Linked DNA regions of Homo sapiens. The protein of the gene in region 4 binds, or shares a complex with, the protein of the main gene of each other region. Each region holds a gene or a part of one and is shown on either strand. Other genes may lie near its edges.

Region 1 (7,038 bases), on a different chromosome or scaffold from region 4:
GTTACAGTCAACCCTAGATTATCATACATAAAGGAGAAAAAGGTGGGACAACAGCAAGATGGGGGAATAGGACTTTCCAGCACTGATCCTCCCACAGAAACATCCATTTGAAAAACTATTCACGCACGAAAATACATTCTCAAGAGCTAAGGAGACCAGGTGAGAAATTACAGCACTGGGTTTAGCACAAAAGTAAGAAAAAACACACTGAAGAGGGTAAGAAGGACAGTTTTACAGAACTCATGTCACCCTTCCCCCAACTCCAGGCAGCACAGCATGGAGAGAGATACCCTCCAGGTGGGCGAAGGAGAGGCAGTGAGCACAGGACTTTGCCTTGGACCACAACACCAGGCCCACCCCAGCAGAACTCAGTGCTGAGCAAGCCCCCTCAGCCCAGACTCCAGGCTGACACCTGCAGGCGAAGCCTTTAGGCCCATCCTGGCACTAGGCTGGATCACCCAGTCCTGAGTTCTAGGCTTGTCCCACTGGGACCGTAGGTTCCAGACCAGCTCAAGGCTCAGGACAGTCCCAGCACCAGGCAAGACTGCATAGATTGTCTCCAGGTCTGCTCTAGGGACAGGCCAGCCCCAGTGGCCCTAGGTTCTGGACCAATCCCAGCACAGGGCTAGCCTCCATGGGCCCAAGGTTCAGGCCCACCCCAGCACCAGGTCAGCTCCTGCAGATATAGGTTCCAGGCCTGACCAGTGCCAAGTCAGCTCCTGTGGCCCCAGTCTGGCTCCTGCAGCCCATACCCTAGTGGAAGTAGGGTTTAGGCCCATCCCAGTAGGCCCTTCTGTTGGGCTGACACCCATAAACACAGGCTCCAGGACCATCCCTGTGGACTCAAGTTCCAGGCTAGCCACTATTGCCGTAGGACCCAGGCCAGCCCCATGTAGCCCAAGTTACCAGGCCAGCACCTATAATCTCAGGCTCCAGTCTGGCCCCTGTGACCCCAGGCTGCACACTTGCCCCAGCACCAAGCTGGCCCCAGACAAATCCCTGTGGTGAGTCAGGGTCTAGGTATGTTCCAGCAGACCCAGAGTCTGGGACCACCCCAGTAGATTGCATTGCCAGATTGGCCCCCATGGACGGAGGCTGCAGGACCACTCCTGCAGACTCAGGCTCCAGGCTAGTCACAGTACAACCAGGACCCAGGCCCACCCCCACATACTCTGGCTCCAGGTCCACCCCAGGGGTTCCAAGCACCAGGCCCACCTTGGAACCTGGCCAGACACTGCAGACTCAGGCTCAAGGCTCACCCCAGTGCCAGACCAACCCCTGCAGACTTAGGCTTCAAGTTGGAACCCTAAGGATCCAGGCCCACCCCTATAGAGCTAATCAGCAGGTCCACCCCAGTGGATCAGGCTCCAGGAACAACCCTACGAACCTAGGCACCAGGCCAGCCTACCCAAGGACTCCAGCAGCAAGCCTGCCATGCACCACAACAGATGGCCTGTCTAGAACCTCTGGATGAGCTTACTGGTGAAGGGCTTTCCCAGACAAAGCCAGTCTGCAAAGACTGGAGTAAGTCCTTACTTCTTCAAACACACACATACCAACACATGGCCACAAAGACCAAGAATAATCAGAGAAACACGTCACTACTAAAGAAACAAATCACCAGTAACTGACCCTTCTTCACAACGAATCCAAAATTATTGTTTTAGGGAAACTCAGTGGACTTCAGGAAAATTCAGAGAAACAATTCAATGAAATCAAGAAAATAATAAATGACCAAAATGAGAAATGTAACAGAAAGATTGGAATTATTATTTAAAAAATCAAACAGAAATTTTAGAGCTGAAAAAAAAATGTATACAGTCAAATTCAGAATATTCTAATACTGTCATGGTGATTAAATCACTTATATCTTTAGTATGAAAGTTAACAGACAAAACTATTAAAAATAATAATAGCTACAATAACTTGTTAAGGGATATGCAGTATAAAAAGATATACGTTGCAAAATCAAAAGCAAAATGTGGAGAGGTGGAGTAAAAGTGCAGAGGTTTTTTATGTTATCAATTATGTTATTATCAGTTTAAAATAGCCTGTTATAACATGTTTTATGTCAGCCTCATGGGAACAACAAAGCAAAAACCTAATAGTAAATACACAAAAGATGAAAAGTAAGGAATCAAAGTATATCACTAGAGACAATCATCTAATCACAAAAGACAGCAAGAGTGGAAGAAAGGAACAAAAGATCTATAAAGCAACTAGAAAACAATGAACAAAATCGCAGCAGTAAGTCCTTATCTATCAATAATTACCCTGAATGTAAATGGACTAAATTCTCTGATCAAAAGACACAGATTGACTGAATAGATACAAAAATAAGACCCAACTACCTGCTGTGTACAAGAGACTCACTTCACCTTTAAAAAATGGACACACATAGATTGAAGTGAAAGAATGGAAAAGAGCTCAGCACAGTGGCTCACATTTGTAATCCCAGCACTTTGGGATGCCAAGGCGGGAGGATCCCCTGAACTCAGGAGTTTGAGACTAGCCTGGGCAACATGGTGAGACGCCGTCTCTACAAACACCATGGACATATCATCCAGGCAGAAAATCAATAATGAAACACTGGCCCTAACAGACATATGTAGAAAATTCAATAAAACAGCAACAGAATACACATTCTTCTCAAGGGCACACAAAACATTCTCCAGGTTATATGATATGCCACAAAACAAATTTTAATACATTTAAGGAGACTGAAATCGTATCAAGTATCTTTTCTGACCATATTGGTTTGAAACCAGAAATCAATAATAGAAGGAATCTTGAAAAAAATCATAAATAACTGGAAATTAAATAACATGCTCCTAAACAACCAATAGGTCAAGTAAATTAAAAACGAAATTAAAAGTATTTTGAGACAAATGAAAATGGACATACAACACATCAATACTTATGGGAGGTGGCAAAAGCAGTTTTAAGAGGAAAGGAAGCTTCGGCAGTAAAGACCTATAACAAAAAAGATGAAAGATCCAAAGTGTAACATCCTAGTGTTACAACTGAAGGAATAGAAGAACAAATAAAACCCAAAGTTAGTAGAAGGAAAAAAATAATAATGATCGGAACAGAAAAAAATGAAAGAGACTAGAAAAACAATAGAAAAGATCAATGAAACTAAGAGCTGGATTTTTGAAAAGAAAAACAAAATCCACAAACTTTTAGCTAGATTAAGAAAAGGAGAAGATTCAAATAATATCAGAAACGAAAGAGATGTTACAACTGATACCACAGAAATACAAAGAATTGGCTTTTTCAGCCACAGAGCTCAATGCAGCTCAGTGACGTTATAAATGCTAATGAACTTAAGGTCTGATGTGTGTTTGAAAGAATCAGCGAAGCTTTTCTTTTTTCTTTTGTTTTGTTTTTTTGAGATGGAGTCTTGCTCTGTCACCCAGGCTGGAGTGCAATGGCGCAATCTTGGCTCACTGCAACCTCCACCTCCCAGGTTCAAGTGATTCTCCTGCCTCAGCCTCCCAAGTAGGTGGGAATACAGGTGTGCACCACCACGCCCAGTTAATTTTTGTATTTTTAGTAGAGACAGCATTCCACCATGTTGGCCAGGCTGGTCTCGAACTCTTAGCCTCAGGTGATCTGCCCACCTGGGCCCAAAGTGCTGGGATTACAGGTGTGGGCCACCGTGCCCCACCCATCAAAGCTTTTCAAGTAGATAAGAAGTATCTGAATATGGGACCACTGATATATTCAGAACAGAAGTTTTTGCTTTCTTTGTTTCTTTCATGGTGGTAGCTGGGGTGAATTTTTAGATGGTCCCAATTTTCTACAGGAATGTTTAGATGAGAATTTTTTGTTTCTGTCCTGTGGTTGAGTTGGTGCCACAGAGAATTTCCATAAAATTCAATTCCATTATTTAAAATAGTTTTTTTTAACTAGTTTTTCTATCAACCAGCCCCAGTCTGAAACTTGACACAGTGTTAACACAAAAGAGCAAGTACTTAATCTTCGTTCACATACTCTACCTACAAAGACATGACCTACAGTAGTTCTTCAAGCAGGTCAGTTTTAGGAGACGTTAATTCTATCTAACTAGACTAGCTATTTCACAACTATGTAAGACAACTTTATAAACTTTGCTTTAACTTACAAAGGTCATTTAATAATCCCATTGTTTTGACGATTCTAAAGATTGTAAGTTTATTTTTACAGTCTACTCTTAAATATTACTGTTGAGGCATATATATGGCAATGGTGGACTTAATTCTGCCTAAGATATCTGAGCATCTGTAGTAAAATATGAAGCTACCTTCATTTGGTTGATATGCTAAAGACATTTTTAAAAGTATCTCATTTTTTAAAAACTTGGTTTGTGTGTTTTGTATGCTCAGGAATTTTTCCACAGTACTGGAGACCATTGCAGTGATTAAATTTGGCCCTTTTGACAGAAAACAGAACAATGCATTCCTAGGGATAAAAAAGGGGTGACTGCAAAGGAGCATGAGGGAATTTTTGGAGTGATTCTATATCTTGTTCTACAACTATTCTACATCTTGATTATGGTATGATTATGCATTTGTCCAATCTCATACTTAATGGTAAATTTTACTGCATATAAGTTCATACTCCAATAAACATGACTTTACAATTAAAACAAAAGAAATATGAAGGCTCATAAGAGATTGCTATGACCAATTATATGCCAACAGATTGGATAACCTAGAATGGATAAGTTCCTAGACACATACAACCTATCAAGACTAAATCATAAAGAAATAGGTAATCTGAACAGACCAATAATAAGTAGAGAGATCAAATCAGTAGTTAAGTCTCCCACTAAACAAAACCCCCAGGACTTGATGCCTTCACTACTGAATTCTACCAAACATTTAAAGAAGAACTAATACAAATCCTTCTCAAACTCTTCCAAAATACTGAAGAGGAGGGGAAACTTTCGAACTCAATTTAGGAGGCCAGCATTATCCTGATTCCAAAGCCAGACAAATCCACTACAAGAAAAGAAAATCAAAGGTCAATATCCCCAGTGAACATAGAAGCAAAAATCCTCTACAAAATACTGGCAAGCTGAATACAACAGCGCATTAAAAAGGTCATTCACCAGGATCAAGTCAGATTTATCCCTGGGATACAAGGATGGTTCAACATATGCAAATCAGTAAAGGTGATACATCACATTAACAGAATGAAAGACAAAAACCGTATGATCATCTCAATAGATGGAACAAAGGCATTTGACAAAATTCAACATCCTTTGATGATAAAAACTCTCAACAAATTAGGTATAGAAAGAATCTAGCTCAACACAATGAAGGCCATTTATGACAAGCCCACAGCTAGCATCATACGCAATGGTGAAAACTGAAAGTTTTTCCTCTAAGATGAGGGACAAGACAAGGATATTCACTCTTACCCCTTCTATTCAACATAGTACTAGAAGTCCTAGCTATAGTAATTAGACAAGAGGGAAAAATAAAAGGCATTGAAATTGGAAAAAAGGAAATGAAATTGTTTCTGTTCGCAGATGGCATGCTCTTATATATTGAAAATCTTATAAAAAATTCCACCAAAAAATTGTTAGAACTAACAAACTACTTTGGTAAAGCTGCAGGATATAAAATCAACATACAAAAATCAGTAGCATTTCTATACACTAAAAGTAAACTATCTGAAAAAAAAGAAAAAAAATCTCATTTACAATAGCTACAAAAAAAATACATAGGGGTAAATTTAACCAGTGAGGTGAAAGATCTGTACACTGAAAACTATAACACATTGATGAAAAAAATTGAAGAAGACACAAATAAATGGAAAGATAACGTGTGTTCATGGATTGGAAACATGAATGTTGTTACAAGGTTGACACCACTCAAAGCAATCTACAGACTCAATGCAATCCCTATCAATTTTCCAATAATATTTTCACAGTAATAGAAAAAAAAATCCTAAAATTCATACTGAACCACAAAAGACCCTGAACAGGCAATGCAATATTAAGCCAAAAAAACAAAGCCAGAGAGATCACACTCTCTGATTTGAAAATCTACCACAAAGCTACAGTAATCAAAACAGCCATAGACCAAGGAAACAGAATAAAGAGCCCAGAAATAAATCCATGCATTTAAAGTCAATTGATTTTTGAGAAAGATGTTAAGAACACAGAAAAGACAGTTACAGAAACATACTTTTCACAGATGTTAAGAATAACAGTCTCAATAAATCATTTTGGGACAACTGGATATCCACATGCAGAATGAAATTAGACCCTCATCCTTTACCATATAAAAAAATTTAACACGAAAAGGATTCAAGATTTAAATGTAAGACCTGAAACTGTAAAACTACTAGAAGAAAACATAAGGGGAAAGTTGCACGACATTGGTCTGGGCAATGACTTTTTTTGGATATAAACCCCAAAGCACTGGTAACAAAACCAAAAATAAATAAATGGGATTACATCACACTAAGAAGTTTGTAGAATCTGGATTTTAAATTATTTTTTAAAAATTATTTTAAAAGACTACGAAGCTTTTGCACAGCCAACGAAACCATCAATAGAGTGAAGAGAACCTATGGAATGGGAGACTATATTTGGAAACCATATATGTGATGAAGGGAACCTCTGTACACTGTTGGTGGGAATGTAAATTAGTACAGCTATTATAGAAAATAGTACAGAGGTTCCACAAAAAATTAAAAATAGAACTACTATATGATCCAGCAATCCCACTTCTGGGTATATATCCAAAGGATGTAAAATTAGTACATTCAAGAGACATCTGTACTTGAAAGTTCACTGCAACATTATTCACAATAGCCAAGATACGGAATCAAAAGTGTCCATCAATGGATGAATGGATTAAAAAAAGTGGTATATATACACAATGGAATACTATTTAGCCTTAAAAAAGAATGAAATCCTGTCATTTGTGACAACATAAATGAACTGGAAGACATTGTGTTAAATGAAATAAGCCAGTCAAACAGAGACAGATACTGAATGATCTCACTTATATATGGAGGATAAAAAAGTACAACTCATAG
Region 2 (2,938 bases), on a different chromosome or scaffold from region 4:
ACGTCCCAGGCGGGATGCAGCATGACAGCACAAGATTTCATCATGCTACCCAGAATAACACACAAGTTGAAACTTATTGTTTCTGGAATTTTCCATGTAATATTTTCAGACCACAGCTGACCACAGGTAACTGAAACTGGAAAGTAAAACACGGATAAGGGGAGACTACTGTATTGTTTTAGTTCAACTCAGGTTTGCAAATAGCACTATAGTTATTACTAACATTAAACAATGCATACTGATAATCCCTTTCCAGGATTAGGATTTAAAGTAACTTCATATTGGTTCTTTTTATTGGAAAAAAGCTCTGGAAAGATCAAGGATGTATAAAGGAAAGAAAACACCTTTCTTTCACCTGGAATACATTGACAGGAGCCAATTTTAAACTTCAAATTTTTACCTATGTGCATGCATTTTATAAAAAAATGATTCCACAGATTTCATTTCATTCAATTAAGGGGGACCCCAAAAAGGTTAATATTAAGAACTACTGGTTTACGACATTCAATTTTGAACATAAACATCCAGGGGAAGGAAATTTTCAAAATTATGTTTATTAATGTTTTAGTATACACATTATATTCTCTTAGAATTGGGGGAAAAGGAAAACCCCACTCAAGTGAGGTAACAAACTTGCCATCTTTTACAAAATTTCATTAGAACTGACAATGTTATGGTGAGTCCTTAATTCCTGAGAATTTGAATTATTAAGTTTTCTGTGAACTTAAAACAAACGCTCACATTAATTTTTAAATTACAGTATGTCTGAAAAAATAAAATTAATGTTAATGTTATCAAGAAAAATCATCATCCAAATGTACATATTAACCTATTAGATGTGAATATACTGAAGCCCTGTTGCTCTGCAGTTTGACACCATTTAAATTCGTTTCCAGGATCTTATTTCAAATATATGAACTTATAATTTATCCAGATAGCAGTGACATTATTTTGACCTAAAGGAAAAATAATTGTCTGTCATTTTCTTCTCAACTGTAGGTATCCAGGGAGTCAGCATGTGAACTCTATCTAGTATTGATAAAATAATTAATTTACATGTGTAGGGATAATGAACACAGAACATGTGATTCTCTTCTAGTAACAATTTCTATCCCTTAATAGGAGATGATTTCAGAGAAGTTAGAGAAGAAAAACAGAGAAAACAATACTGTTGCTATGAAATGACGAATTTGATATAATCAAATGCAAGATCATTAATATAAACACTTATAATAATGAAAATATAAATTATTAATTATGCAGCATGCTTTAGGGCCATTTCTACAGTTATTATGAATTACAAATATTAAATGCCTTTAATCTATCCACTGTTCATAATTCTGTAAGCCATGTTTACATAATAAACAAAAAACATTTCCTACATATTCTGTCTCTTCTGACTTTTAACAATTAAAGTATTTATCTTGGGCTGGCAAGTTACCCTGACCCTAACCAGTAAGTACAAACAGGGCATTGTACACCCATTCTAAAAGCTGGAATCAAAGAATAATGTTAGAAGTATTTGCAGGATTTATCCAAAGAAATGTTTAGCAGACAAATGCAATAGAAAAAAATCAAGCATTTCCCAAAATGGTGTTTGTATTAGAAAGTTTTAAACTTTTGTCTTCATTGTAAAGGTATCACTTTATTTTATTTTTAAAAGGCCATGATTAACCATTTAATAACTTACATACCTTTACAAAAATAAAACTAACAGCTTGCTGGGCACAAAATTTACTCAAAATCTTTCTGTATTTTTAAAATCAGTAAGTGATGTATCTTGCTAGCGCTTTATTCTCACAGTGGTATTTTTTTAAAAGCCTGAACAGTGTAATTATTTAATCTGATGTTTTAAATTATACTTGATATAAAAAAAAAGTCTACCCAAACCATCACCAAAATTTCAATTCAATCTAATGTAGAAGAAACCTGAGTTTGGATGTAGAAATAATTCATTCAATTTTTTTTCTGACATCATACATCATGCCTTCAACCAAAATAGAAGTGAAGCTTCAAACAGGACTCTATGGCTTTATCTGAATTTTCTGAGTATTAAGTAAATCTTAAATTTAAAGCAGCTGTTGGAGGTTAAATGTTCTCAAAGCAATGTAAACTAGTTATAAAATGTCTCATCAAAGACATCAGCAGCTCTTGTGAGTCACATGAAATTAACAATGAAAGAAGGATCATCAGTTATACTGTACACTGAGAGTACATAAAACACTTGTGCCTCACCTCTAGTATCAAAGCCATCTTCATATATTCCTTTTATAAGAATATTGATATGTATTCTTTATGAACTTCAGGCTCATTCCTTTTGTTAAGCATGTATTTACTGGCTGTATATAGTATATGCATTGAATTTCCCATGACTTGAAATAACTATAGATCAAAGATCTATGCAAATACAAATTACAAACATGTAGATTACAAGAAATCCGAGGTGATAGTTTATGAATCTGGATTTGCCCTTTTATAACTTCACTTCAAATAGAAACATCTTGTACCCTCAAGTCCAGGCAAAAATCCAATTTTAAAATCTCATTCTTAACCTTTGAAAGTAGAGCCTTTGGAAACAGAATGAACTTCACTTTAAAGCACTGCCTTTAAGAACTGTAACATCTATTTTCCAGAGATGTGACCCAGGAAACAATTCATCAATAGTTTATCCATTCCACTGGCAAAAGTTTTAACAATTCTGATGATTTCATCATATGTGCAGTGAATACCATCCGTATCATTTCACAACAGGATCAGCAGACACAGTGCTGTCAGACAGGTCTCCATTGCTTGTTTTAGTTTCTTCTGAAAGCATGAGTGAAAATAATAATGGATATTTATGTTCATTTTTAAACAATAAATTAAGAAGTAAAAGAAATTTGAGAAGAGCTGTATTGCCAAACTTCAAATTACAGTTGCATCCATCAAATGTTTCTCT
Region 3 (7,841 bases), on a different chromosome or scaffold from region 4:
ACTCCTACTTGGCCTTTAAGTTTATCTCTGCTGTCACACCGTCCAGAAAGCCTTCTCCCAGCACCACAACCCCTCCACCAAGGGTTAGGTGTCTCCAGCAGATGCTGCACAGCTGGCTGCCCTTTGCCCACCCTCCCCTTCTTTCTCATAGAATCCTAGGACTCCTCTGTATCTAGAAGGAGTTGTGTGGTCCAGTGCTGGCCAAGAAGATGTGAGAGCAAGTCGCTGGGTGGAGATTCTTAGGAAAACTTCTTAAAAAGAACGAGACTGGGCTCCTTTCTGCCTTTTACCATTTTTGTGTATGCTTGCCTTCTTCCCACCTGGGACTCTGATGCAGCACCTGTGAATGGGCACACATATTACAACTCTTAGGCTGAAACCCACGTTCTCAGGCAGAGGTCTCTTGTGGGCATTTAGTGCTATAAATGTCTCTTTACACACTGCTTTAAATGCGTCCCAGGTCTTAGGGTATATACCCAAAGGATTATAAATCGTGCTACTATAAAGACACATGCACATGTATGTTTATTGTGGCAGTATTCACAATAGCAAAGACTTTGAACCAACCCAAATGTCCATCAATGACAGACTGGATTAAGAGAATGTGGCACATATATACCATGGGATACTATGCAGCCATTAAAAAGGATGAGTTCATGTCCTTTGCAGGGACATGGATGAAGCTGGAAACCATCATTCTGAGCAAACTATCACAAAGACAGAAAACCAAACACTGCATGTTCTCACTCACAGGTGGGAATTGAACAATGAGAACGCTTGGACATGGGGCAGAGAACATCATACACTGGGGCCTGTCAGTGGGTGGGGGGCTGGGGGAGGGATAGCATTAGAAGAAATACCTAATGTAAATGACAAGTTGATGGGTGCAGCAAACCAACATGGCACACGCATATCTATGTATCCAACCTGCACATTATGCACATGTACCCTAGAACTTAAGTATATAAAAAAAAAAAAGAAAAAAAAACTTTCACCTTTTTCCAAAGTGTTGGGATTATGGGTGTGAGCAACCACATCTGGTCCTTTTTTTTTTTTTTTAATGGAGGTGAAATTCATATAAGTTTGGCCATTTTAAAGTGAACAATCAGTGGCATTCAGTACATTCACCATGTTGTGCCAACACTATCTCTATGTAGTTCCAAAACATTTTCATCAGCTCAAAATGAAACCTTGTACCCATGAAGCAGCCACTTCCCATTCTCCCCTCCCCTTAGCCCCTGGAAATCGGCTTTCTTTCTCCACGGATTTACATATTCTGTATATTTCCTATAAATGGAATTACACAATAGGTGACCTGTGTCTGGCTTCTTCCACTTAACCTAATGCTTTTGAGGTTCTGTCACATGGTGCCATGGATCAGCTCTGCCTTCCTTTTTATGACTAATACTCCACTGTATGTCCATATCACCATTTGTGTATTCACTCATTAATCTATGGACACAAGCCTCATTTTTAAGCACTTCAAATATGTTAACTCACTGAATCCTCACCACAAAGACAGATTCAGTTATTACATATTGACAGAGTGAAAACTGAGGCACAGGTAACATGCCTAGGATCACGTGGCTATGAAGCAGAAAGAGGACTCCAGCCGAGGCAGTCTAGTCCCAAAGTCCTTCCCTTCCTAGTAACCACTATGCTCTCCTGCCTCTCAGAGAACAACCCACATGGCACAACACGAGGGCTAAGCTGTCTGGTCTGTCGGGTGAAGCTTCAAATGCTGTTCATTTCCGATAAGGGGAGGTTCCTGGGCTGCAGAGGCTTCCTAGAGGAGGAAGACCATGTAAGGTCTAACTCAGGGCAGGTCAGGATGGTGTGAACTCACTCTGAACACAGTCACCGATGGGTGTTTAGGAAAATTGGCTCTGGAACTCCCACAGGGAAGGTTCTTATCTTTGCGTGCACAACACAGAGCCCTCTGGGTAGACTTCTAGACCCAGGCCTCTTTCAAATACATTAGAAACCTCAGCAAGATAAACTATTTTCTGTCTGGCTGCATCTGTCTATCTGTTTAGAGAGCAGGACATTTCCATCCTCCTCTCTCCAGGCATCCTTGGAAGTCTTTCCCACAAGCAAGACATCTTGGTGAAATTTAATGCTGCGGAGGGAAGTGGTTTTCAGGAGAGAGGAGTCTGTTCCCAGAACTGTAGCACAAAAGCTAGAGGCTGAGTAGGAACATCTTAAACTAAGTCCTCAGTCTTATTTCCAGTTTTCTTCCTGTAGATCGGGGCTTAGGACACCCTGTCACATTTTCTTCACTCCTCCACCAGGAATTCCTAAAGTCCATGCTCTTGGATCCTGGCAAATCCAGGAGGCTGGGGGATGTGGCAAGCTTCAGCAAGACTGCCTGGGACCAACCCTGCAGCCTTAATTCCCAGGCCCGCTCAGCCCAGCTGGCCAGCAAAGGCAGGCAGAGCTTCTGTGTCCACACATGAGAATGACCTGCAGCTGTTCTTTGTCCAGGCTGAGGTCCAGGATTCCCATTGCAGCTCCTAGGAAATCTTTAAAATTAGGTCGGGGATGAGCCTGTCAGTAGATTAGGTAGGGAACTTTTATGAAGTTGAGGGTGAACCATCTGGAGGGTGAACTGGCTGGTGTGATTCTAGAACTGGGGGTGGTGCCTAGCAGTGCATTTGTGAGAAGACACAGCCAGGCTTGGTATATGATGTGGTGTGTGTGTATATTCACAGGCATCGTGGAGCATATACACTTTTTTTGTGTGTGTTGAAATAAACCTTACAGATTACAAAGTACTTTTTTTTTTTTTTCTGAGACAGGGTCTCTCTCTGTCGCCCAGCCTGGAGTGCAGTGGTACAATCATAGCTCACTGCAGCCTCGATCTCCCAAGCTCAAGTGATCCTCCCGCCTCAGCCTCCCATGTAGCTGGGACTACAGGTGTGTGACACCATGACTGGCTATTTTATTTTATTTTTGTAGAGATGGAATCTCACAATATTGCCCAGGCTGATCTCAAACTCTTGGGCTCAAGCAGTCCTCTCGCGTCAGCCTACCAAAGTGCTAGGATTACAGGCATGAGCCACCACGCCCAGCCAGATTACAAAATACTTTGACATCTTTTCTCTACAGCCCTCAAAAGGAGGCAGGGCAAGCACAATTAAATCCCATTACAAATGGGGTGACTGAAGCTCCATTCATGGCTTGCCCAGGGTCACACAAAGAATGAATAGCAGATCCCTGAGCCTGTGTGCTTCCCTCTGTGCCAGGCTGCTTTACCCAGGCATGGGTGCACGTTGTGCATGGGACATTTCTCCTTTGTTGTGTCCTGAGTACCTTAAGCCACTCAGATATTGCTCAGGTGGAGTGAGGGGAAAATGTTTTCAGGTTGTATTAGTCAAAACAAAATACCACACACTGGGCGACTTTAAAATCATACATTTATCCCTCACAGTTCTGGAGGCTTGGAAGTCCAAGTTCAAGGTGGCAGCTGGACAGGTTCCTGGTGAGGGCTCTCTTCCTGGTTTGCAGACAGCCACCTTCTCTTCGCATCCTCACTTGGTGGGAAAAGACAGAGGAGAGAAAGAGAGAGAGAGAAAAATGAGATAGAGAGAGAGAGAGAAATGAGATAGAGAGAAATGAGAGAGAGAGAGAGAGAGAGAGAGAGAGGGAGACACAGAGACAATGCTCTCTTTTCTTACCAGATCTATAATGAGGGCCCCACCCCATGACCTCATCTAACCGTAATTACCTACCAAAGGCCCATCTCCACATACCATCACATTAGGGGTTAGGGTTTCAACATAAGCATTTGGAGAGGACATAAACATTCTGTCTACAACATGAGTGGAGATCCATCTCTTCTTTACCTCTGGTAAGGGGACCACACGCTGCAGCCAGCGAGACAGTGGCATGTTCTTGTTACAACTCGATCTAACTCCCCCAGAAGAGGAGGCAGGGAAGGCGGACAAAACTGGGAGAGGGAGAGAGTGTTAGGAAGAGAGTAGGGTGGCCAGAGGCAGCAAATAAAATATAAAATGCTTAATTCTGAATCTCAGATAAACAACCAATAATGTTTTTTAGCATAAGTATGTCCCAAACTAAGCTTGGGACATATTTATGCTACGAAATTATTCGTTGTTTATCTAAAATTCAAACTAGCTGGGCATCCTGTCTTTTAATCTGGCAACCCTAAAAGGCAAGGGCCAAAAATGCCGGAGGCAAGCCAACGGATTCCAGGAGGGACAACTGCTGGACTTTGGACTGATGATGCTCTTTTTATATATTTAACTTTTTAAAAAAGCCTCTTTTCTTTCTTTTTACCAGCTTTTCACTAGCTTTTTAAAAATTGTGGTAAAACATACATAACCTAAAATTCACCGTCTAAACCATTTTTCAGCATACAGTTCAGTGGGATTAAGTAGATTCACACCGTTGTGCCGCCATCACTACCACTCATTTCCAGCACCCTTCCATCACCCCAGCCTGAAACTCTACCCATTGAACACGAGCTGCCCAACTCCGCCTTGCTTCCCCATTCCTGGCGACCACTGCTTCTGTCTCTGTGAATTTTGACTATTCTAGGCACTTCACAAAACTGGACTCATACGATATCTGTAGTTTTGCGTCTGGCTTCTCTATTGAATTCTTAAAGGGGGGTGGGAACTAAGCAGATCACAAGGGAGCTGCCCACAGAGGTAAAGACAAGGTCAGGTAGGCTGAGAGACGCAGGAAAGCGGGTCAAGGCGTAGGGCTGGAGGGCAGGGGCGGGCCCTGGGCGTGGGCTGGGGGTCCTGCCCCGGGGCGCACCCCGGGCGAGGGCTGCCCGGAGGAGCCGAGGTTGGCGGACAGCTTGGCCCTGAGCTTGAGGGGAAGGCAGCGATGGGACAAAGGACGGAGGTCTAGGAAGAGGGTCTGCAGAGCAGAAAGCACGGGTAGGGGCGGCCTGACGCTCGGAAGACAACGGATGGGAGCCGTGTGCACGTCGGGAGCTCGGAGTGAGCGTGAGTTCCGTGCCCAGGCCCGCGACTCGGCCCGACAGGACAGCGCTCCGGGTCGACGGGGTCCTGGAGCCGCGCTCGGGGAGGCGTCTTGGGCTCGCCCCGGAGCTTCCTCCCTGGAGCCGCGCCCTGCACCCGGCCTTGCCCGGCCCTAGCAGGGAAGCCAAGGCTTGTGGGGCGCAGGGACCCGGGCTCTGCGGGGTCCCGGTTCCGCCTCCCCACTCCTGCGTCTTCCCGCCCCTGCCGGGTTCTGGGAAGCCTCGCGCGGCTCTTCCGCAGCTGCTGCCCGCCCGGAGCTCCTGGTCCCTCGTAGGGGACCCCACTTCTCTGACACCGCTTTGGGTTCCCGGGGCCTACAGCGAGGCTTGTAACTCCGGGAGAGACCCTGGAGCGGGGTGTGGGAGAACGGTCTGGAGGAAGGGCTCCGAGCACTTCGAAAGTATAAACCGCGGTCCCAAAGAGGCGTGCTGTGTCTGCATTTTCCTGGGAGTGCACGGTTTACATTCTCGAAAGCAGTGCTGTCGACTAGAAATATTGAGCGATACACATGTACAAGTTTTGTCACTTAAAAAGAATTTGAAAAAACTTCATAGATGCAAAAAAAAAAAAAAACCCACCATTATTAAAGAATACTTAGGTATTTGTGGAATGCATTGAAGAGTTAACAAAATGGATAGGCAGGAAATATCGCAGACCTAGAATGAATTACAGTTACCCACTGTGGAACTGAGGAGCTAGGGTTTCTCATAAAACTCCCTGATAGAAGACGACTTTTGATAAAATTTTTTTTCCGCCAACAAAATCCCCTGTCTTCTCAACTAGTTACTGTCTGTCCACTAAATAAGAGGTGGTCCGTCACTTCTTCAGATGAGCAACTACAGGCTTTTCAAAAGATAATTGCTAATCAACCCCTTTGTGCCTGGGTTTTCTTATTTGTAAAAATAGATACTACTACCTAACTCCAAAGTGTGTGGTGAAGACAAACAATTGGGGTGATGTATACTAAAGTAACGAAAGTGTTGACCACACACTACGGGCTGGTTAGTGTTAGATTCCCTTGTTTTTCCCTCAGTATCAAAAACAGATCTAATTTAGGTTTACATAAAGACAAAGTATGAAGATAAGGTGACTTACAGTTGGTACTACTAACAAAATGTTTGGGCTAATATTTGCATTATTGCATGAAAACAACAAAACATATCAATAAATAACAAAAAGCTTGGAATTCAGACGACAGATCCAAGTCTGGGCTTGATCTCAAGCTAGTGTTTTGATGTTGAAAAAATGTTATTTGGTCTTTCTAACCCCATTTCCTTATGTAAAATAGGGGATGATGATAAATTCACTGATAATAAGAGTTAAATGAGATTCTTGAGGAGTCAGAATGGTTCTAACATGTGTAGGTATTATTAGCAGTCATACTGTAGCATAAGAAAATACCGTCTGCTGAAAGAGGGACAATAAAGATTATCTACATGGTCATCATTTAAAAGCTACCAGATATAGGAAGAAGGGGCCATAAAATGATAACGTTATGATGATTAATTTTGATGCTTAGGTCAGAGTCCATTCTAGGATATCTGCTGCCCAAAAACAGCAGAGACTCATTTCTTTGGAATCACAGGACGCTGAGTGAGAGGAAAGAAAAAGAAAAGAAATATTTAAGTCACATATGTGATTTCTAAAAGTAAAAAGAAACAGATGAAATTAGTGATATATTTTTAAAATCCAGTATATCCCAAATATGGTTATTTTAGCATGTAATCAATATAAAATAATAAGATATTTTACATTCTTTTTTTCTAGCCTTTGAAATTTGGTGCATATTTTACACTTATGGCACATCTCAATTCAGACTATCCACATTTCAAGTGCTCAGTGGCTGCATGTGCCTGGTGGCTACCATATTGGACAGCACAGGTCTAAGGATTTCATTCCTGCCACAAGTCCAAACTCCTAGCTTTAATTTTGAGTGTTTTTAACAAACTGGCCTCTGTTTATCATTCTTTCTTCTAGTACTTCCCCAAGGATGATTGTACCCTCAGCACTCAAGACCGCTTGCGGTTCCCCTACACACTTTTTGTTCAAGCTGTTTCTTTTACCTGGAATGCTGTCTTTGCACCTTCTTCCTGGACCTGGTTCACCCTCGTTGCCTAGGCTGGAGTGCCATGGCGCGATCTTGGCACACTGCAACCTCCACCTTCCCGGTTCAAGTGATTCTCCTTCCTCAGCCTCCCGAGTAGCGGGGATTACAGGCCTGCACCACCACGCCTGGCTAATTTTGTATTTTTAGTAGAGATGGAGTTTCACCATGTTGGTCAGACTGGTCTCGAACTCCCGACCTCAGGTGATCTGCCTGCCTTCGCCTCCCAAAGTGCTGGGATTACAGGCGTGAGCCGCTGCGCCCGGCCGAGAGGCACACATTCTGCTAAGAGCTTTTTCCTGACTCCCCTAACTCCAAGAGGGATTTGTCACTCCTTAGCTTTGTACCCATGACTGGAGTAGAATGAATTTAATTTGAGTTTAGTTGTTTTTGAGACTCTCCCTGGCTAGTGTAGTGTCTTATTCGTCTTTGTTGTGATCATGGCCTGCACCTAACAGATGATCAGTAGATGTTTGCAGACAGAAAGTAAACCACTCATCAGGTGTATTCAGTCCCATTCTTGAACGGGCTTGCTGCCTCCTTTTTGAGGAGATCTGTGTATGTACTCTTCTTTCACGCATATGTGTGAGCAAACACACACACACTAACAAGAAATTCATCTGAAGATGTGCACAGGAAATATCTTGCATCTTTACCCCCTTTGTGATCTTACATATGGGAGAACTGAGGCACAGAAATAAGTTAGGACAGCCAGCAAACTT
Region 4 (7,038 bases):
ATCTTAATCCCTTAAAGAAAATAAAAACTGGCAACTTTTGTAATGAATTTTTCCAGTTTACTTACATATGCAGACAGACACACACACACACACACACACACAATCAAAATTAGGATCACATAATATTGTGTCCTTCTCTACCTCTGCTAAATCTTATATTATGAACATCCTTGGGCACATATCTTGGTAAACCTTTGCACATATATCCAGCAGGTAAAATTCCTAGCAGTGGAATTGCTGGGATCAGGGTAAGTATATTACAAATGTTTTTTTAAAATAGATAAAGCTAAATTGCCCTCCTCAAAGGCTGTCAATTTACATTCCAATTAATAGCACTTACAAGTCCCATTTCTCCAAATGCTTCCGAATAATGGGGGCCCAACATTTTACCTTTCACCAACCTGATAAGTGGAAACAGTAATTTTCGTATTTGGATTTTTGTCCCTTGAATCCGAAGGTTTGTCATTTCTATTTTCTTGAAAACTGCCTCTTAATTTCCTTTGCCCTTCCCCTGCTTTTTTTCTATTGGCTTGGACATCTTTTTCATACTGAACTTGAAGATTTGAAGAGCACACTATAAATCAAGAAACTAGTCCTTTGTTGGTATTTCCTCTTTTGTCTTTTGTTTTTTAACTGAGACACTGACACAGAATTAATTACATTCAGCATTTATAAAAAATCAAGTCTCTAAATCTTTTTCTTTATAGTTTCTTCTTTTGGTTTTATACTTAGGAATTTCTGAGAGCTGATACATATTTGCCTAAAATTTCGGCTAATTTATTTGTTTCATATTTCACACTAACCCTTTATCTGTAATTAATTTTGATAACATAGGAGATGTAAAGGGGACTAAGTTGCTATTTTTTTAACTGTGTGAACTTACATCTATTGACTAATATTCCCTTTCTCTCTTAATTTGAGATGCTACTTTTCCTTATGTACCATTGTATGCACAGGGTGTGTTTCTAGGCTACATATTCTTGCTCATTGTTCCTTCTATTTAGTTGCATACCAGTAGCACCCTATTTTGGTTTCTACAGTTTTACAGTGTTTTAATACTTGATATAATATTTTAATATCTTTTTTTTAAAAAAGGACTTGCCTAAGTCCTATGACATTTTAAAAAATATATTCTTTGAAGTTAAAAAAGTACCTGAAATCTTGATTGTAACTGCAGTAAACCTATAAACTAGATAGAACTATTATCTCTGTAATATTCGAGGACCCTCATTCAGAAACATGGACTTTCAAATTTTATATTTAAAATTTTTATAGTTTTTTAATAAAGTGTTCTTTCATATTTCTTATAGAGGTTATTCTTAGCTATATCATTGCCTTGTTATTTCTGTGAATAGGTCCTTTTTCACACTGTATTTTTTAATCGATTGATGTATTTCATACATTTATTCTGTAGCCAGCTTGTTTTCTGATCTCTGTATTATTTTGATAGTTTTTCACATGATTCTATTGGGTATTCAAGGAAGACAGTTATGCAGCAATCCCACTACTGGGTAACTACCCAGAGGAAAAGAAGTCATTATTCAAAAAAGATACCTGCACATGCATGTTTACAGCAGTACAATTTACAATTGCAAAATCGTGGAACCAACCTAAGTGTCCATCAATCAATGAGTGGATAAAGAAATTGTGATATATACATACGATGGAATGCTACGCAGCCATAAAAAAGAATGAATTAACAGCATTTGCAGTGACCCGGATGAGACTGGAGATTATTCTTACAAGTGAAGTAACTCAGGAATGGAAAACCAAACATCGTATATTCCTACTGATATGTGGGAGCTAAGCTATGAGGACGCAAAGGCATAAGAATTATACAATGGACTTTGGGGACTTGGAGGGAAGAATGGGAGGGGAGTGAGGATAAAATACTACAAATATGGTGCAGTGTATACTGCTCAGGTGATGGGTGCATCAAAATCTCACAAATCACCACTAAAGAACTTACTCATGTAACCAAATACCACCTGTATCCCAATAACTTATGGAAAAATAGAATAAAAAAGGAAGACAATTAATCTCAAATAATACAGAGTTTGTCTTCTTTCCAATATGCATTTTATTTTCATTTCATTTCTTATTGTCTTGCACCTGTATAACAAAAGTAGTTGCAAGAGTCTGTATAGTTGTCATGACACTGTGACAGTCCTGGCTTTAATGGGAATGCCACTAACATTTCACTATTATGTACTGACATTGCTAGTTAATTTTAAAAGTTCATCTTTGGCTCATGTTGTAAGAAAGTATCTTTGATTCCTAACCTACTAATTTCTAAAAATCAAATGATTTTCAGTATCTGCTGAAAGTTGTATTTTTCAGTATCAAGCTCTCCACTTTGAGCTAAAATTTAACAAAGTGGAATTACTAATGAGAAAGGGATAGGAAAGAATGTCTTGGCAGGTAAAAAGTAGTCTGCCATTTTTGGAAACAGTGCTCATATATACATTTAGTTGTGGCATGAACTTAACTGTGCTTGCTGTGGGAACCAGGTCAGTGGAGAGAGAAAGAACAAACCACCATGATTATTTCTTTCCTCTGGCCACTTAAGGAATCCCTCCTGGCTTGCCTATTTCACTTAACTCCTGAACCAGATGAGTTGCTGACAGGAGTACATGGTGGAGAGGAAGAAGAGGCGGGAGGGGCATTGTGTTAAACTCTGCAAGGCAATTCCCATGGTGGAAAAGGCAAGGACATTTCAGAGCTGGGGGTAGAGCAGTGGCGAGAGGCGCAGAGGCATCTACTGTGAACGACCTATTGGGCTTCACTCCTGATGAATCCAGGGCCACTATTATTAGCATCTTTTTACAACTATTAATATTGTTCTTTACTATCTATCACTTACCCTCCTGGGTAGCTTTGTGTACCGAACATAATCCTCCAGGAACAGAAGGGCACCCACAACATCTGCAGGAATTTCAGGTATCTTCTGGCTGTGATAGAGAACAGTTTAGATCAATTAACTGCTTTGCACATCATAAGCCCTTTTGGTCAGAATCCTGAAAGACTAAATTACCAACAGATTACCTAATGAAGTCAAAGATGAACAAAAACATTGAGCATGCTCTTAATTCCTGTCAAGTTGTTACCTTGCTCATGTATTTTCAGGAGCCCACCCCATAGGGTAAATGTGAGCTTCTCTATACGGTTTCCATGGGCGTTTACAACACGATCCCTGCTATCTATCCAGACTCATCTCCCTCTGTTTACATGATTCAATACCTAGCAGGTCCCATACTTTCCCATCCCTGCACACTTTTTTTTTTTTTTTTTTGCGACAGACTTTTCACTCTTGTAGCCAGGCTGGAGTGCAGTGGTATGATCTCGGCTCACTGCAACCTCCGCCTCCCGGGTTCAAGTGATTCTCCAGCCTCAGCCTCCCGACTGGCTGGGATTACAGATGCACGCCAGCATGCCTGGCTAATTTTTTGTATTTTTAGTAGAGACGGGGTTTCACCATGTTGGCCAGGCTGGTCTTGAACTCCTGACCTCAGGTGATCCACCCGCCCTGGCCTCCCAAAGTGTTGGGATTACAGGCGTGAGCCACCGCACCTGGCCTGCACACTGATTTGAAAGTAAACTTCTAGACATTGTTCGAGTCTCAGCTTGGGTACTTCTCCTGTGGAATCCTCCCTGATTCTCCTGGGCTGTCATAATAGTTAGCAGCATTCTCCAAGCCTCTTAATTTTTCAATGGTGTGCTGGGTTCCCATCAGGAGTATAAACTCCTCGAGGGCCTAGGTCATATGTTCATCTTTGTTTCTCCAGCATCTGGAAATGTGCTTGGCATGTACTGCATATTTGACGGTATCAAATAAATACAGCATCTAGCAATTTTTCATATGGGATTTTACTCATGTATTCATTCATTCAGCAACTACAGTGCCAAGCACTGTTCCAGAGCTGGGAATACAGCAAAGTACATGCCAGGCTCCTTATAGAGCTAACGTTCCTTCTTGTTTACATCAAAAGGAGTTTTTAGGTGTTAAAACGATTTCCAATTCCTGTACCAATTGGCATTTTCTGATTAACAAATAACTTTTAGTACTATTAATACATTACTGGTTAATTTCGCTGATGAACTTTGCTTTTTGAATGGGTTAAGAATGACTGTACCTGGAAAAATTCTCCCTGCTCTCAATCTTTCAATCTGTGACCAGGGCTATATTTGCTCTGCTTGGAGCAAGAGAAAGGAAGGAATTCCCATGCGTCACAGGTTCCTTAGATTCCTTTGCTCTGCTGAATCAGAAAGCCTGACTTACAGCTGGTCTCCTGTAGCCTGATCACCACCCTCAGGGTTGCCAATAACATGCTGGACTAGAGCCACACTTAAGCCTTTACTGCCATTAGTGAAAAAGAAAGAGAGGAAGAAGAACCTGTCCAAGTTGACAGCTAGGGAGCTACAATTGGGACAGCCAGTTGTGTGGAGGTTACTTGCTAATCACCTCCGCACCACCTGAACTGGAGTCCTTCCCCTCCTCTCTGGGAGCCTGGGCCAGAGGCGCTGGGTTTTTATGAGCCTACTGCTTTCCTTGCCAACTGACCTCACTTCGTGATTGTTACAATTTCATTTTTGAGACTTTGAGTTCTCCTCTATTTTTCAATTGTTAAAAAATCTTGTTTCTGAAGCAAGTCTTAACATCTATCCCAGGAAAACACCAGTGTTTGTTGTTCGATTCATTAACTAAGAGGAGGAGGAGCTGGCCTGACTGCAGCTCACGGGAAATAACGACATTGGGGTTTAGAAAGAATGCAAAATCAGTAGGAGCCACTGGTATGCACTGGATGTCAAGAAACCCATCACTGCAAAGCCGAGATCACGCCACTGCACTCCAACCTGGGCGACAGAGCGACTCTTTCTCATAAAAAAAAAAAAAAAAAAAAAAAAAAGGACTCATCACTGCAATTGTAGCTGCTGTACTGTCCACAGAGGGCCCAGAATGAAGACGTGTAATACTCCTCTGTGCCAAGGGGAGGGCTGTGCTTGGAATCTCAATACAAGTTTGGGAAGCCACATTTTAAGATGGTCAAAAACAGACTGGAACACCCAGAAAAAGTCACTCACTATGGTGAGCAGCCTCTAAACTGCAAGACATCGGGAACAGGTGGAAGGGGCTTATCTAAACATTGAGAAGACCTAAGACAACAGATGGCATACAAAATCGGAAGTGATGTTGCAAAGGAGGGAGACTGCATTATTCTGTATGATTTCAAAAGGTAGGAAAAAGCTCAGCGAGTGAAACATCCAGAGACACAGGTTCTAATAATCACAATCAGGAACTTTCTAATGAGAACAAGACTTAGCCAGTGGACTGTGCTGCCTGGAGAGGTAGCACAAGCCCCCTCGGTGAGAGTGTTCCAGCAGTGGCTGCATGACTACCTGTCAAGGATGTCCTAGAGCTCATTCATGCACTTAGTGGGAGGTCAATTAAATGACCTCGAAAATCATTTCCAGTTTTAGGACTTAGTAGTATTTTGTGTGGACTTAGAAGATCACTTTGGTTCGTTTTATTTTTTTTGAGATGGAGTCTCGCTCTGTCACCCAGGCTGGAGTGCAGTGGCATGATCTCAGCTCACTGCACCTCTGAGGCCTCCTGGGTTCAAGCAATCCTCCTGCCTCAGCCTCCTGAGTAGCTGGGATTACAGGTGGCCACCACTACATGTGGTTAATTTTTGTGTTTTTTTAGTAGAGATGGGGTTTCACCATGTTGGCCAGGCTGGTCCTGAACTCCTGACCTCAAGTAATCTACCCAAAGTGTTGGGATTACAGGCTTGAGCCACTGTGCCCAGCCGCTTTGATTCGTTTTTTACATTATAGTGGCAAAAATGACCAAGCAAACATGACAGCAAAGGTTATGTAGCCAGGCTGACCCTTTAGGATAGCAGAGAAGGAGGCACAGGACCCAGCATCTCATGGAAATAACTTTTTTTTCTTTATCCCAGAAAAGCCACATTTAGGGGCAGGGGAAAAGAACTGGCAGGAATTAAAGTTTTATAAGCATTGTATCAAATAGCAACTCTTGTGAAATTTGCTTCTCTACATGCAGACACTGCCCAGGCTTTGACACACTGATATGTTCTCTGACTCCCACTGAAGTGAGTGGAATCATCTCTTGGCAGTGGCCCAGCAGGAGTGCAGGGGCTCGCTGAGATTGAAGAGCTGCATCCAAGAGTGCAGAGGAACAGGGCTGCACTTTCTTCCCCATGGTAGTTACTATTCATGGTCCTGAGTCACTCCTGGAAAATCAATGTGAGTAGACCGGATGGAGTTCCCCTGGCAGGGTGACTAAGGATGGACACACCTGTAATTGCTCTAAACAAGGAGGTATGCCCTGACTTGCTTTACAGAGAAGGGTGAGCAACCATTTCCCATCTCTATTAGGGCGATAAGAGGAATTTGGTAATGTGAGGTTTAAGTTAGGTTTTGTGACAAGAAGTCCCACGTAGTCCTGGTTGGTCTTCTGTACCTTGTACACTGCTCCACCGTGGAGCAGATAAACTGGCCAATCAGCGCCAGGAACTGCTCGGTGTACCGGGAATGGAACTGCTTCAGCAGAGTGAGCAGTCCCAGGACAAGTGGTGGCCAATCAACCGGGTCGGTCGGTTTTCGGCAGACCATTCCTGCAAGGGAACAAGTTGCAACACCATATGAAGTACTTGCCTTCAGCAACATTCATTAAATACCAACGCTGTGAAGGTCAAAATGTTTGGGGCCCATATTCTCGCTGGCAGATGATATTTTGGAGGGAATGACAATTCTGGGCCATATTTTGAATTAGCCACAGGATTGGTAGGGCATTCCAGGGGTCTGAAGGATTCAAAACCAATAAAACGGTTACTAAATTTTGTAATTATCATTACTGGTTCTTTTGAATTACTCAATTAACATATATTATTGTAGCAATTTTTAAAGATACAGATAAATGTAAATGAGAAAAAAAATCACTACAACTGACTTCTGTTAACGGCAGCATGACATACTAGATACCCTGAACTACTATCTTAAGTGAAAAGCTGGATA

Evidence for each region.
Region 1: WASHC5 (region 4) and WASHC3 share a complex: the UniProt entries of both Homo sapiens proteins name them as parts of the WASH core complex.
Region 2: WASHC5 (region 4) and WASHC4 share a complex: the UniProt entries of both Homo sapiens proteins name them as parts of the WASH core complex.
Region 3: WASHC5 (region 4) and WASHC1 share a complex: the UniProt entries of both Homo sapiens proteins name them as parts of the WASH core complex.

The regions. Positions count from the first base shown.
Region 1 is NC_000012.12:102,051,972-102,059,009, forward strand, and holds part of WASHC3 (WASH complex subunit 3), read right to left. Parts: intron 1-7,038. UniProt on the Homo sapiens protein: Acts as a component of the WASH core complex that functions as a nucleation-promoting factor (NPF) at the surface of endosomes, where it recruits and activates the Arp2/3 complex to induce actin polymerization, playing a key role in the fission of tubules that serve as transport intermediates during endosome sorting.
Region 2 is NC_000012.12:105,166,731-105,169,668, reverse strand, and holds the end of WASHC4 (WASH complex subunit 4), read right to left. Parts: intron 2,806-2,938; coding exon 2,738-2,805; 3' UTR 539-2,737; downstream 1-538. UniProt on the Homo sapiens protein: Acts as a component of the WASH core complex that functions as a nucleation-promoting factor (NPF) at the surface of endosomes, where it recruits and activates the Arp2/3 complex to induce actin polymerization, playing a key role in the fission of tubules that serve as transport intermediates during endosome sorting.
Region 3 is NC_000009.12:26,450-34,290, reverse strand, and holds the start of WASHC1 (WASH complex subunit 1), read left to right. Parts: upstream 1-4,834; 5' UTR 4,835-4,942; coding exon of another isoform or gene 4,943-4,979; intron 4,980-5,057; exon of another isoform or gene 5,058-6,635; coding exon of another isoform or gene 6,636-6,637; exon of another isoform or gene 6,638-7,841. UniProt on the Homo sapiens protein: Acts as a component of the WASH core complex that functions as a nucleation-promoting factor (NPF) at the surface of endosomes, where it recruits and activates the Arp2/3 complex to induce actin polymerization, playing a key role in the fission of tubules that serve as transport intermediates during endosome sorting.
Region 4 is NC_000008.11:125,025,757-125,032,794, forward strand, and holds part of WASHC5 (WASH complex subunit 5), read right to left. Parts: intron 6,639-7,038; coding exon 6,485-6,638; intron 2,952-6,484; coding exon 2,864-2,951; intron 1-2,863. UniProt on the Homo sapiens protein: Acts as a component of the WASH core complex that functions as a nucleation-promoting factor (NPF) at the surface of endosomes, where it recruits and activates the Arp2/3 complex to induce actin polymerization, playing a key role in the fission of tubules that serve as transport intermediates during endosome sorting.